Homo sapiens: one gene and its partners. The protein of the gene in region 1 purifies or fractionates together with the protein of each later gene. This does not show direct contact. Each region holds a gene or a part of one and is shown in the gene's direction. Other genes may lie near its edges.

What was found.
Region 2: the proteins of SCAF8 (region 1) and LYAR purify together in Homo sapiens (co-immunoprecipitation; one large-scale study listed by IntAct). This does not show direct contact.
Region 3: the proteins of SCAF8 (region 1) and PEX7 purify together in Homo sapiens (co-immunoprecipitation; one large-scale study listed by IntAct). This does not show direct contact.
Region 4: the proteins of SCAF8 (region 1) and SRFBP1 purify together in Homo sapiens (co-immunoprecipitation; one large-scale study listed by IntAct). This does not show direct contact.

Annotation. Positions count from the first base shown.
Region 1 is NC_000006.12:154,739,916-154,743,415, forward strand, and holds part of SCAF8 (SR-related and CTD-associated factor 8), read left to right. Parts: intron 1-2,040; coding exon of another isoform or gene 2,041-2,103; intron 2,104-3,500. UniProt on the Homo sapiens protein: Anti-terminator protein required to prevent early mRNA termination during transcription. Together with SCAF4, acts by suppressing the use of early, alternative poly(A) sites, thereby preventing the accumulation of non-functional truncated proteins.
Region 2 is NC_000004.12:4,280,155-4,283,654, reverse strand, and holds part of LYAR (cell growth-regulating nucleolar protein), read left to right. Parts: coding exon 1-34; intron 35-1,757; coding exon 1,758-1,872; intron 1,873-3,500. UniProt on the Homo sapiens protein: Plays a role in the maintenance of the appropriate processing of 47S/45S pre-rRNA to 32S/30S pre-rRNAs and their subsequent processing to produce 18S and 28S rRNAs. Also acts at the level of transcription regulation.
Region 3 is NC_000006.12:136,912,013-136,914,434, forward strand, and holds the end of PEX7 (peroxisomal biogenesis factor 7), read left to right. Parts: intron 1-1,445; coding exon 1,446-1,514; 3' UTR 1,515-1,922; downstream 1,923-2,422. UniProt on the Homo sapiens protein: Receptor required for the peroxisomal import of proteins containing a C-terminal PTS2-type peroxisomal targeting signal. Specifically binds to cargo proteins containing a PTS2 peroxisomal targeting signal in the cytosol.
Region 4 is NC_000005.10:121,964,975-121,968,474, forward strand, and holds part of SRFBP1 (serum response factor-binding protein 1), read left to right. Parts: intron 1-3,500. UniProt on the Homo sapiens protein: May be involved in regulating transcriptional activation of cardiac genes during the aging process. May play a role in biosynthesis and/or processing of SLC2A4 in adipose cells.

The DNA of each region.
Region 1 (3,500 bases):
GTTTTTAGTTTATTTTTCCTTTGTTGATGGTTCAGGATAGGGAATTTATGGGAAGCAGCTATAAAACACTGCATTTGTCTTTTATTTTCATCTACCAGGGAATCTGTCTCTGGTTTTCCTTTCCTATTATCATTTTCTAGAGGGAGTTCTGGTTAATTCTGTCAGTCAGGCTATATTTTTTTCTTTTTACCTTGTGAAAGTCCTTTAAAGATGTAGCATATTAATTAGTATTATAAAGGAAGGAAGTCTTTCACTAACCCCTTTCTGCTCATATGAGAACCCAAGAGCTAAGTATCTTGGGAACTATTGATATTTTGGGCTGGATACTTGTTTGCTTGGGGAGCAGTCCTATGCATTCCAGGATGTTTACAGCATCCCTGGCCTCTATGCATTAGATGCCACTAGCACCCTCCACAATTATGACAGCCAAAAATGTTTCCAGACATTATTAAATGTTTCTTTGGGGGCACAGTGACCCTGGTCCAGAATCACTGATTTAGGTCTCCTGTTAAACTGTCTTAAAATACTGTGCTGTTTCTTCCAGTGATCATAGCAATTTTAAGTAATTTTAATAGTCTTTACCACTAGATAATAAGCTCTATGAGGACAGTGACTGTATTTCCTTTGTTTCATGTCCTTGGTTCATAGCACAGTATCTCAATATACAGTATATATGTGAAGTAAAGATTTTCTTTTTCTTTTTCTTTTTCTTTTTTTTTTTTTTGAGACTGGGTCTTGCTGTCATCGAGGCTCGAGGGCAGTGGTGCCATCAAGGGCTCACTGCAACCTCTGCCTCTGCCTCAAGCAATTCTCCCACCTCAGCCTCCTGAGTAGCTGGAACCACAGGCACGCACCTCCATGCCTGGGTAATTGTTGTGTTTTGAATAGAGATGGGGTCTTGCCATATTGCCCAGGCTGGTGTAGAACTCCTGGTCTCAAGAGACCTGCCCACCTTGACCTCCCAAAGTGCTGGAATTATAGGCATGTGCCACCGTGCCTGGCCGCTAAGTAAAGATTTCTTGAATGAATGGATGCAATCCTAGGTAGCTAAATGACCTTGGCCAAGGTAGTTAACATTTCTGAACATCTGGTTATTACTTTGGGGAGGAGAGTTGGAGAGGGAACTAGTCCATTGAAGATTTCAGTTAGGTTAAGTCCATTGTGAGTTTTATGTTGTCTAGTAATTATGTTATTTTCAAGTCTGATTTTGCTGTTTTTCTGTTTGAAATGACATATAGAAGTTTTTTTCTTACATTAAAAATAGAATACAAGGATAATTGAAACTGATAATGGTTTTGAGAGACTGCATGATTTGAGAGTGTTAATCACACATCATTAAATATAAAAAAATTTTAGGCATGATGGAAATGCATGTTTCGTGGAGTTCAATTATTTCATTCTAGACTAGCATTGAATTTGTTATAGTAATTGTGATTAACATTTAGGGGACTTTATAGCCCCAGTGTCCCAAAGAGTCATATTCTATGATCATTTGCTTCTTTTTTTTTTGAGATGGAGTCTTGCTTCTTCGCCCGGGCTGGAGTGCAGAGGCATGATCTTGGCTCACTGCAACCTCCGCCTCCTGGGTTCAAGCAATTCTCCTGCCTCAGCCTCCCCAGTAGCTGGAATTACAGGCATGTACCACCACACCCGGCTAATTTTTGTAATTTTAGTAGAGACGGGGTTTCACCATGTTGGCCAGGCTGATCTCGAACTCCTGACCTCAAGTGATCCGCCCGCCTCGGCCTCCCAAAGTGCTGGGATTACAGGTGTGAGCCACCGCGCCCGGCCCGTTTGCATCTTTTTCAGAAGGGGTATCAGTGGCTTAGAATTAGTGATAGTATTACTAGTTGTATGTACAATTTCAGATATCTCTTTCTAAGGCCAGTTACGCTGTTTTGGACAACTTCTAACTCATAATGGTGTGAAAGAATGTAATCAACCTTGACCTTGAACACTGGCTGAGCTCCTGAACTTTTAAGTGAGCTCATTTTGTCTGGTTTTGTGTTCTCAACATCTTTCTCTACTCCTCTCTCTCAGGATTGTGCCTCTACTCCTGCTTGTACAGACTGCTTTTCCAGCAGCATGGACACAAGAAGCATAGTAAGATGATGATAACCCACATAAGGCAGGCCCTTTGGAATATGTTAGGTTTCAATTGGTAGTGGAATAGTGTATTTGATTATATGGTTAGTACTTGGGAAGCAGAATGAAGTTTGTCACTTAGAATAGATTGGTAGTCTTAAAAGAGAGCGTCTAGGGAATAAGTTGAATTGCTTCACAAAAAGGTTAATTGGAGAAAAAAGTTTTATGCTCAATAGTGAGCATAAATCATATATATATAAACTTTTGTTATGTTTACTTGTATTCTGCTCCATGTGATTTTACAAAAGAGATAGAACTATTTGAGTGAATTGCAGACCTCTTAATTGAATAATAAAATACACCTTTTGAAGAATTTCTTTGAACTATAAGATGACAAATTATTGACATATATGCTATAGGAATAAAGAATTGAATTTTTGATTTTCTAATTATAGAGGCAGCAGATTGTGGTAGAGGTACTATTGATTATGAGAAATAAATGCTGATGAGAAATGTTTCTATAGTTTGTGATTTCGTACCTAAATGGATTCTGTCTCATATTTGATGGTAAACATGATGCATTTGCTTTTTCTGATTTTGATTTTATGCATTTGTTTTGTCTTTCTAATTTTGTTTTATAAGAGTTTCTGATACAGCCATCCTTTAAACTTAAGGAAGGCTATGTAAATGTATTAAAATACCTATTATAGGTCAGGAAAAATCTCAGTAACTTTGACATTTCTTTATTTATTCAGAATGGGGACTATGTTGCTCATGTTCTCTAAAGACAATTTTGACTATTAAGTTGATGTATGACAAATTTGTTTTTAAAATAATTCTGCAACTTAATGTGATTTATATAGATTGACTTGAAAGATGTAGGATTTCATTCTTTCATTAATTTGTTCATGCACGTAACTAATATTTAATGAACATGTATCGCGGCCTAGGGATTTTTTTTTCCATCTCCTGGGATATAGTGGTAAACCAGACAAGCAAAAACCATGCCCTCTTGGAGCCTATGTTGTTGTGATTCTTTTCCTTTTGTCTCATTAGCAGTTTGTGTATTGAACTTGCTGCAGAGCTGGGGAGGCTGTGCAGGCATTACTGACTCCAGCATTGCTTCTTTGCTAGGGACTATGTTGTTTGCAGCCTGATCCGTTCTTAGCATTTTGCCTCTTAGAGTCCAGATTGCCTGTCCACTGTTCAAAATAGAGACTGAACAGGTAGACTTAGTTAAATGATTTTTCAAACAGTGGGAAAATATGACTAGCTACATTGTTTTATACAAAATTGTCTGTTATATATGTTTTAAAATCTCCATTTGATATTTTGGAATCTTAACTATTTCTTGTAAAATACAGCTTTAAGAATGTTTTCTTTTGTCCGTGAGAATCATTAGTCTCCACATGCAT
Region 2 (3,500 bases), on another chromosome or scaffold:
GCCTTTCTTGCATTGACTGCGGTAAAGATTTCTGGTAAGCTTCACAGAATTCATGTAGATCCATAGTAAATCCAGATCAGTTTTGGAAGCCTTGGCGCCACAAAGCTTGGAAAAATAGTGGCAAATTTGAAGAATGAAATTAAGACTAAAAACTGGTATGTTCCATTGATTAAAACTGGTGTGATTCTTTCAAATGTGCTTTACTAGGCCGGGCGCAGTGGCTCAGGCCTGTAATCCCAGCACTTTGGGAGGCCAAGGTGGGTGGCTCATGAGGTCAGGAGTTGAAGACCAGCCTGGCCAACATAGTGAAACCCTGTCTCTACTAAAAATACAAAAATTAGTCAGGCGTGGTGGTGGGCGCCTGTAATCCCAGCTACTCGGGAGGCTGAGGCAGGAGAATCGCTTGAACCCAGGAGGCAGAGGTTGCGGTGAGCCGAGATTTCACCACTGCACTCCAGCCTGGGCAACAGAGCAAGTTAACCCCTTCTTGGGGGGGAGAAATGTGCTTTACGAAACAATTTGCTTTTTGAGGATATGTTAAAGAAAAGACTAGGGGAAGGGGAATTATGATGATTAGAGTGTTCAGTCAGTTGGTGACACTGGTTGCTATTGCATTGCCACTGTTTACAGACCCAGGGAACTAACTGCGTGGAAGATGGCTCCAGGGGTTTAGAGCCAGTTTCATTAGACCATGGGTATCACATGCCCATCACAGTGGAGAGATGGACTTATGAACCAGAAAGTGAATTTATGAGCTCACAGTGGGGCAGATGACTGGTAGCAGAGGAAACTATGTCCTCCCTAGAAAATCAGAGGTGCTGGTGGAAGTGAGGCTCTTCCTGGCCCCACGGGTGTGTCAGGAGACACTTCCACTGAGGAGGCCTCTGTGAATGTGAGGAGTTAGCGGGGAGGGACAGGACAGATCCTGCCTTAGACACCGGTTCTTCAGGTGGGTCGTTTGCAGAGGGCTCCCCTCTTGAATTTCATGTTGATTCCCCTTCAGCCTCAGAAGGTCCAGGCGAGAAGCTGGCTTCTGGCTGCATCTGCCCCAGTGTCCTCTGAGGCATTCGGATGGTACTGGCTAATACTCTCTTTTAATTCATTCTGGAGCAGTGATTTTTTTTGGAAACTGCTAACCTCTGTTCAGACGTAATCCTAGGAGGAAGCTTGATATATAAAGTAGGTTAAAATTGAGTTTTCATTAGGGGACTTTGCCCTGGACCTTGTCCCCAACATTTCCCTGAAGAACCCCATAGAGCTTTACAAAGATTATATGAGAGAGAATTTAGTTTTCTTTTTTCTCAGGACCCTAAGGGATCCAGAACTGTTGGTAACCTCATGCTGCCATTTTATATCTGTTTTTGATTTATTCTACAACTAATTATTGACTGTCTATTAGACATTGAGATTTTTATAATTTAAAAAAACTACCCTATTGCATAGAACTATTTTCTTGTTTATTCAGTATATGTACACTTATGACTTAAAAAAATACTGCCTATCAATTTAGCTTAAGGTGTTTATAAAAATGGGGGAAAAGTTTGGTGATGGGTTTTATATTGACGACTTTGGAGGAAGGGGGATGTGGTTCTGACCAGGAGGCTGTAAACATAATAAGTGAAATAGATGGGGTGCTTGTGTGATAGACACATGTGAAAATATACAGTGTAGACCACAGAAGATAGTGGCAGCATGCTGGTATTAGCGCCTCCAACTTGGGTATCAGTCTAATGGCAGAACTTTTGATCACTTTAAAGGGGCGATGACTATAAAAACCACGTGAAATGCATAAGTGAAGATCAGAAGTATGGTGGCAAAGGCTATGAAGGTAAAACCCACAAAGGCGACATCAAACAGCAGGCGTGGATTCAGGTAACGTCTCTCTAACTCATTGAGTAGCTTCCTCTGACAGCTTCCGCTTTCTTTGGAAGCCCAAGAGACTAAGAGTAAATGTGTCATCCCTGCAGACAAGCTCTGGAAACCTCATGTCCTAGGATAGACAGGTTGAACTAAAACCTCTTGAAAAAGAATTCTTTGGCTGGGCATGGTGGCTCACGCCTGTAATCCCAGCACTTTGGGAGGCCAAGGCAGGCGAGTCACGAGGTCAGGAGTTCAAGACCTGCCTAGACAACGTGGTGAAACCCCATCTCTACTAAAAATACAAAAAATTAGCCGGGCATAGTGGCGGGTGCCTGTAATCCCAGCTACTCAGGAGGCTGAGGCAGGAGAATCGCTTGAAGCCAGGAGGCAGAGGTTGCAGTGAGCCGAGGTTGTACTGGGTGACAGAGTGAGACTCCGTCTCAAAAAAAAAGAAAAAGAAAAGAAAGAAAAAAAGTTCTTTATTCTTCTAGCTGTTAAAACAGTTGCGGTGCATTATACCTTTAATCCATGTGTTTTGTTAATTTCTTGAAAAAAAAGTTTTAGAATTCTCATTAGCTTTCCCTTGGCTGTAAAACTAAATGGAAGCTTCTAATCTCTCCCTGCTTCTAGTGATAATGGAGCTTTTATAACTCAAGCCATGTTAATCTGTCACATCTGCCAGTCATTAGAATTAGGCAAAATAAAGATACTTTCGTCAATGCAGAGAATTTTCTACTTAACTAAAACAGCATGAAAACATGCACAGTAGAAATGGCAGAAACATTGACTCCCTAATTCACTGGGAAGTATAACTCTCAGAATGCTACTGATCATTTACAGAATAGGTAGCAGGAGGAAGGATTCAGAAAGGAAGGTGGGATAATGAAAAGACGGATGTCATCTATTGAAAATTCTGTGTTTTTCTAAAAACCAATAAAAAGTAATCGTTCCATTTGATAATAGAGTTGGAACGTGAATTTTTCAGACATTAACTAGCTTACTGAATGAGCATACTACTGGGAGGGTATTTCTGTTCACAAAGGACTTACTAGAGCAGATTGAGAAGCTAATGAAATCCTGTTTGCACTGGTGACCAGCAGCCACACTTTTGAGCACTCTCTGTAATTCTCTAAAAACCAGATGACGTTCCTAGACCCTAAGGTTGAGGTGCATGGGTCTGTGAGTTCCGTCTCTGCTGCTGTCACACTCGATGAAATCCTCTGAAGCAGGGGTCAGCAAACTACAGAAACTTATTACAGCTTTGTAATAAGTTTTGAAATCAGAAAATATGAGATCTGCATTTTTGTTGTTCTTTTCAAGATTGTTTTGGCTATTTGGTATCTTTTGAGATTCCCTGTGAGTTTTAGGATGGATTTTTCTGTTTCTGTAAAAACGTATATATACACACACATTGGATTTTGATAGGAATTGTATTGAATCTGTAGATTGCTTGGGTAGTATTAACATCTTAACAACTTTAAGTCTCCCAGTCCATGAGTACGGAATGTTTTTCATTTATTTGTGTCTACTTTAATTTCTTTCAGCAGTGTTTTTTGGTTTTCAGTAAACAAGTCTTTTGCCTCTTCAGTTAAGTTTATTCCTGATTATTCTTTTTGATGCTGTTGCAAATGGAATTGTTT
Region 3 (2,422 bases), about 18 Mb from region 1:
TTTATTTGCATTTCCCTAATCCCTAATGATGTTGAGCACTTTTTTATGTGCTTACTTTTGCCCATCATTTTTCATTAGATTGCCTTTTATTATTGAGTTGTATTGGTTCTTTATGTATTCTTGATACAAGTTGTCAGGTGTATATTTTATGAATATTTTATATAACTGTGTCTTGCCTGTTCATTTTCTTAACAGTGTCTTTTGATGAGCAAAAGTTTTATTTTTGATTGAGTGTAACTTACCAAATTTTTGATTATTACTTTTTGTATCCCTAAGAAATCTTTACTTACCTCTGTATTGAGAATATATTTTCCTTTTTTTTTTTCTGAAAGTGTTATACAGTTTGCTTTTATATTTAGGTCTGTGGTGCATCTCAAATTCATTTTTATGTGCAAAGTTGGGGTCAGGATTCACTTTTTTCCCTATGGATATTCAGTTGTTCTGCCACCATTTATTGAAAAGACTATTTTTTCCTTTTGCTCTTTAATTGTTTTGGTACCTTTGTTGAAAGCCATTTGTCCAAGTGTGGGGCCTATTTCTGAACTCTGTTCTCTTCCTTTGATCTACTTGTCTTTATCCTAATCCTGCACAGTCTTGATTACAGTAGTTTCGTGCTGAGTCTGGAAGTCAGCTAGTGTTAAGTAGTGCAGCTTTGTTTCATTTCAAGATTCTTTTGGCTAAGTCCTGGCATTTCCACATAAATTTTAAAAATTGCCTCATCCATTTCTATTAAAAAACGAGTATATAGAAACACAGTGGTTTTCATATATTAATTTTATACCCGGAGACATTGCTATATTCACTAAGTTTTTAATGCATAGTTCCTGAACACCCTGGACTTTCTTCCCTTCATGTTTTCCTATGGCTCTGTAGATGTGAATGTCCTTGTCTTTTATGTCTGCCTCCTACAGAGGTCCAGTGGGAATGCCATGGCATTGTGAAGTTGTCTGACACTGTCCCAGCTGGAATCATATAGTCCCCCTAAGAGTCTCTGTTAGTGCACCTTCCACACTCAGTCTTGAATGAGCCATTTTTTGAAGGCAAGAGCTTTACTTTATCTTCCTCTCCAGTCCCACAATATTGAGCACAGCATCTTGTTCACAGTCTGGAACGTATCTTTTCGACATTTATATCAGATAGTAGGGAATTATGTAGCTGTTGGGTGAAGTGAAGGTGGGGGACATTCTTATAGGAAACCTCAGTCAATTGAAATATACCAATTGGAATATACTCAATCAATGGGAATCAGTTGGAATACCCTGAGGTATATCCTAAAAAGGGAATATGGACCTTTTATCAAAAACGTAGCCCTATGTTTTCCCTATTCAAAAATATGTTTACTAGTGGATGATTTACGACACTCTAAATGACTTGAGTTTTTGCTGTCAATTTTGAATTTTTGTATGTCTAAATACGTTTCTTCTTACTTCATTTTTGTTTTCTAGGTGGCTGACTGTTCTTGGGATGAAACAATAAAGATCTATGACCCTGCTTGTCTTACTATTCCTGCTTGAGATACACTACTTTGGTCAGAAACAGAGGATGTTGGCTGAAGAACTGCCTAACAGCAAATAAATTAACTATGGAAAACATAGACATTATGCTTTTATATGCTATTCAGATTTCAAATCTTTCCAATTTACCCTGGAATCAGTTTTGAGGGAGCTGATAAAGACTTTAGCTGACTCGTTAAGCCTGATACATAAGCCATATTTAAAATTCTAAGAAATAATTAATGTTATGATATATCTTGTAGTATCTATTAAAATGTCTCTGGGTCATAAAATGGATTAAAATATGGGAGATCAGTAGGTTATACTTATATAGATAGTGATATATTTCATTTTTAATTTGTCATTTTTGATGTAAAATATAATCACTGCTGTGATAAATAAACTATCTATTGATCATTTATCATTTTATAACTTCCCCCAAAAGACTGCTCTTTCTAATACATTGTATATGTGAATATAGTACTATATATAATATAGATATATCTGTGGTTCAGTAACAGGACACTAGAATATATTTAATTTATTCTTTTATTTAGTAGCTGTTTATTGAGCATCTACTCAGTGCTTGACACATAGACTCAATGAGATTCTGTCAAGGACTGGTGCCATGTTTTTAAGAACATGGAATGCTGTGAGCTAAGAGCTTACTTTTTTTTTTTTCTTAGAATTTATTCACACATTTTTAGATATTGTACCCATGACTCTATAATTTTGTCTTCCCACTTCTCTAATATCAAAATTTTTTTAAACTGTCAATTAAACAAAAAGTTTTAGGTCCTACTAAGGCTTCTAGCTTTTGCCCTTGAAACCAGGCCTAAGTACAGCTATACGTGCTCCTTGCCACCTCCCTAAGTTTTCTTGAAAAAGCTCTAGGTGCAGATGAACTGAAAAAAACAAAAAAAGTTGGT
Region 4 (3,500 bases), on another chromosome or scaffold:
GCTGCATAAATGACTTCTTTTGAGAAGTGTCTGTTCATGTCCTTCGCCCACTTTTTGATGGGGTTGTTTTTTTCTTGTAAATTTGTTTAAGTTCTTTGTAGATTTTGGATATTAACCCTTTGTCCGATGGATAGATTGCAAAAATTTTCTCCCATTCTGTAGGTTGCATGTTCACTCTGATGATAGTTGCTTTTGCTGTGAAGAAGCTCTTTAGTTTAATTAGATCCCATTTGTCATTTTTGGCTTTTGTTGCCATTGCTTTTGGTGTTTTAGTCATGTAGTCTTTGTCCATGCCTCAGTCCTGAATGGTATTGCCTAGGTTTTCTTCTAGGGTTTTTATGGTTTTAGGTCTGACGTTTAAGTCTTTAATCCATCTTGAGTTAATTTTTGTATAAGGTGTAAGGAAGGGGTCCAGTTTCAGTTTTCTGCATATGGCTACCCAGTTTTCCCAACACCATCTATTAAATAGGGAATCATTTCCCCATTGCTTGTTTTTGTCAGGTTTGTCAAAGATCAGATGTTTGTAGATGTGTGGTGTTGTTTCTGAGGCCTCTGTTCTGTTCCATTGGTCTATATATCTGTTTTGGTACCAGTACCATGCTGTTTTGGTTACTATAGCCTTGTATTATAGTTTGAAGTCAGGTAGCATGATGCCTCCAGCTTTGTCCCTTTTACTTAGGATTGTCTTGGCTATGCAGGCTCTTTTTTGATTCCATATGAACTTTAAAGTAGTTTTTTCCAATTCTGTGAAGAAAGTCAATGGTAGCTTGATGGGGATAGCTTTAAATCTATAAATTACTTTGGGCAGTATGGCTGTTTTCACGATATTGATTCTTCCTATCTATGAGCATGGAATGTTTTTCCATTTGTATGTGTCCTCTCTTATTTCCTTGAACAGTGGTTTGTAGTTCTTGAAGAGGTCCTTCACATCCCTGTAAGTTGTATTTCTAGGCATTTTATTCTCTTTGTGCAATTGTGAATCGGGAGTTCACTCATGATTTGGCTCTCTGTTTGTCTATTATTGGTGTATGGGAATGCTTGTGATTTTTGCACATTGATTTTGTATCCTGAGACTTTGCTGAAATTGCTTATCAGCTTAAGGAGATTTGGGGCTGAAACAATGGGGTTTTCTAGATATACAGTCATGTCTTCTGCAAATAGAGACAGTTTGACTTCCTCTCTTCCTATTTGAATACGCTTTATTTCTTTCTCTTGCCTGATTACCCCGGCCAGAACTTCCAATACTAAGTATGTTGTAAAGAGATTAAGATTAAAGTTTGTTGTTATTCTTGCGAAGTAAAGTAAAAATTTATCTTTACTCTTCTAAAAAATAAACCATCACTTTTTACTCTATCCTGATGATTATTTATTGCATATTTTTGGTACTTTGAAGAGAGAATTTTTGATTGCTTTTATAGCAGCTTCCCTAACCTCCAGCACAGTACCTTGTCTACAGGTAATAAGAAGTAGGTATATAATGGGCAGATGAAAGCATGGATAGCATAACTGTCAACTAATGTTCAAATGAGAGGGAAAATCTCCTAAATGCTTTTTTTCCTCCCTTTCCATTAGAACTAGAGGAGAAATGCACAATTGAAAACAACAGTGCCATAGCATTTAGTGCGTAAATAATTTGCAAAACTAGAGCTAGATTTTCTCAAGTCATCTGTTTTCTAAAATTTAGGCAGCAGTGATATGTAAAAATCAGATTTAGGAGGTGTAGCAATCTGATGGAGTGCTTTAATTTCATAGGAAGGCCAACGGCCTATATGTACAACTGACATTTTATTTTTTTTTATTTTTTATTTTTTATTTTTTTTTTTGAGACGGAGTCTCGCTCTGTCGCCCAGGCTGGAGTGCAGTGGCAGGATCTTGGCTCACTGAAAGCTCCACCTCCTGGGTTCACGCCATTCTTCTGCCTCAGCCTCCCGACTAGCTGGGACTACAGGCGTCCACCATCACGCCCAGCTAATTTTTTTTTTTTTTTTTTTTGTATTTTTAGTAGAGACAGGGTTTCACCGTGTTAGCCAGGATGGTCTCGATCTCCTGACCTCGTGATCCGCCTGCCTCAGCCTCCCAGAGTGCTGGGATTGCAGGCATGAGCCACCACGCCTGGCCTATTTTATTGTTTGATAGCAAATTACCATTAAGCCCATTAGAAAATTGCTTTTCATTTCATGTAAGACAGTAAAGGTAGAAACTAAAGTGCCAAAGAACAAAATGAGTTTCCTCCACATATTGTAAAACATAAGAATGTCAAGAACCACGTTTGTATGCGCTTATGAAGTTACAAAACGCTTGTGTCGTGATTAGGTGCATAGTACTTTTTAATAATTTTTTTCTGAAATATTAAATTAGGGCATTTCCGTAAGAACCAATTTGTGTTTAGTTATTAAACTATTCTGGGAAGTTTTGCTAGGTGGCAGCATATGCCCAATAATGGTTAAATCGTAGATAATCACTAAGCACTCTAGGTATTTTAAAAAATTGTTGCTCATCAGAAATAAAAAGTAAAATCAACAATAAGTTATCATCCATATGATAAAATTAGGGTCCTCTTCATACAAAAATAATTTTGGCCAGGTGCAGTGCCTCACTCTATAATCCCAGCACTTTGGGAGGCTGAGGCCGGCAGATCACTTGAGCTCACGAGTTTGAGACCAGCCTGGGCGACATGGTGAAACCCCGTCTCTACAAAAAATACAGAAAAATTAGCCAAACATGGTAGTACGTACCTGTAGTCCCAGCTACTTGGGAGGCTAAGGTGGGAAGATGGCTTGAGCCCGGGAGGGGGACGGAGGTTGTGATGAGTCGAGATCACACAACTACTCTCCTGCCTGGGCAATAGAGCCAGACCTTGTTTCGAACAAAGACAAGAAACCCAATAATTTTGTTAACTATGAATTACTTCAAACGTATGGAAAATAATGTAACAGATCTTCTTATAATCTACTTCCTATGTTTAGGAAATGTCAGTGTTTTGCTATATCTTAATATTTAATTCCACCCATCTTCTTTTCTACCTCAGAGGTAATTATTCCTCTTGGTGTGTGTTTTTCTCTTATATATTTTTCACAATTTTAGTAACATACGTATCTATACCCAGTGTATAGTATTGTGTTGTATACTTTTAAACTGCATATTGTTTTACAAATTATAAATTGTAGTAGTCTCCCTTTATCCATGGGGGTTATGTTCCAAGACCCCCAGTGTATGCTTAAAACCTCAGATAGTACCAAACTCTGTCATTATTATTATTATTATTATTATTATTATTATTATTTTCTGTACAGTAATGGGCAGGTAACGGATACAGCAGAAATACACTGGATGTATGATTTACATCCCATGTGGGATGGAGTAGTACAGTGAGAGATTTCATTATGCTACTCAGAGTGGTGCACAATTTAAAATTTATGAGTTATTTATATTTGGAATTTTGGCTAACCGCAGGTAACTGAAACTGCTGACAACAAAATTGTTGGTGGGGGGGACTACTG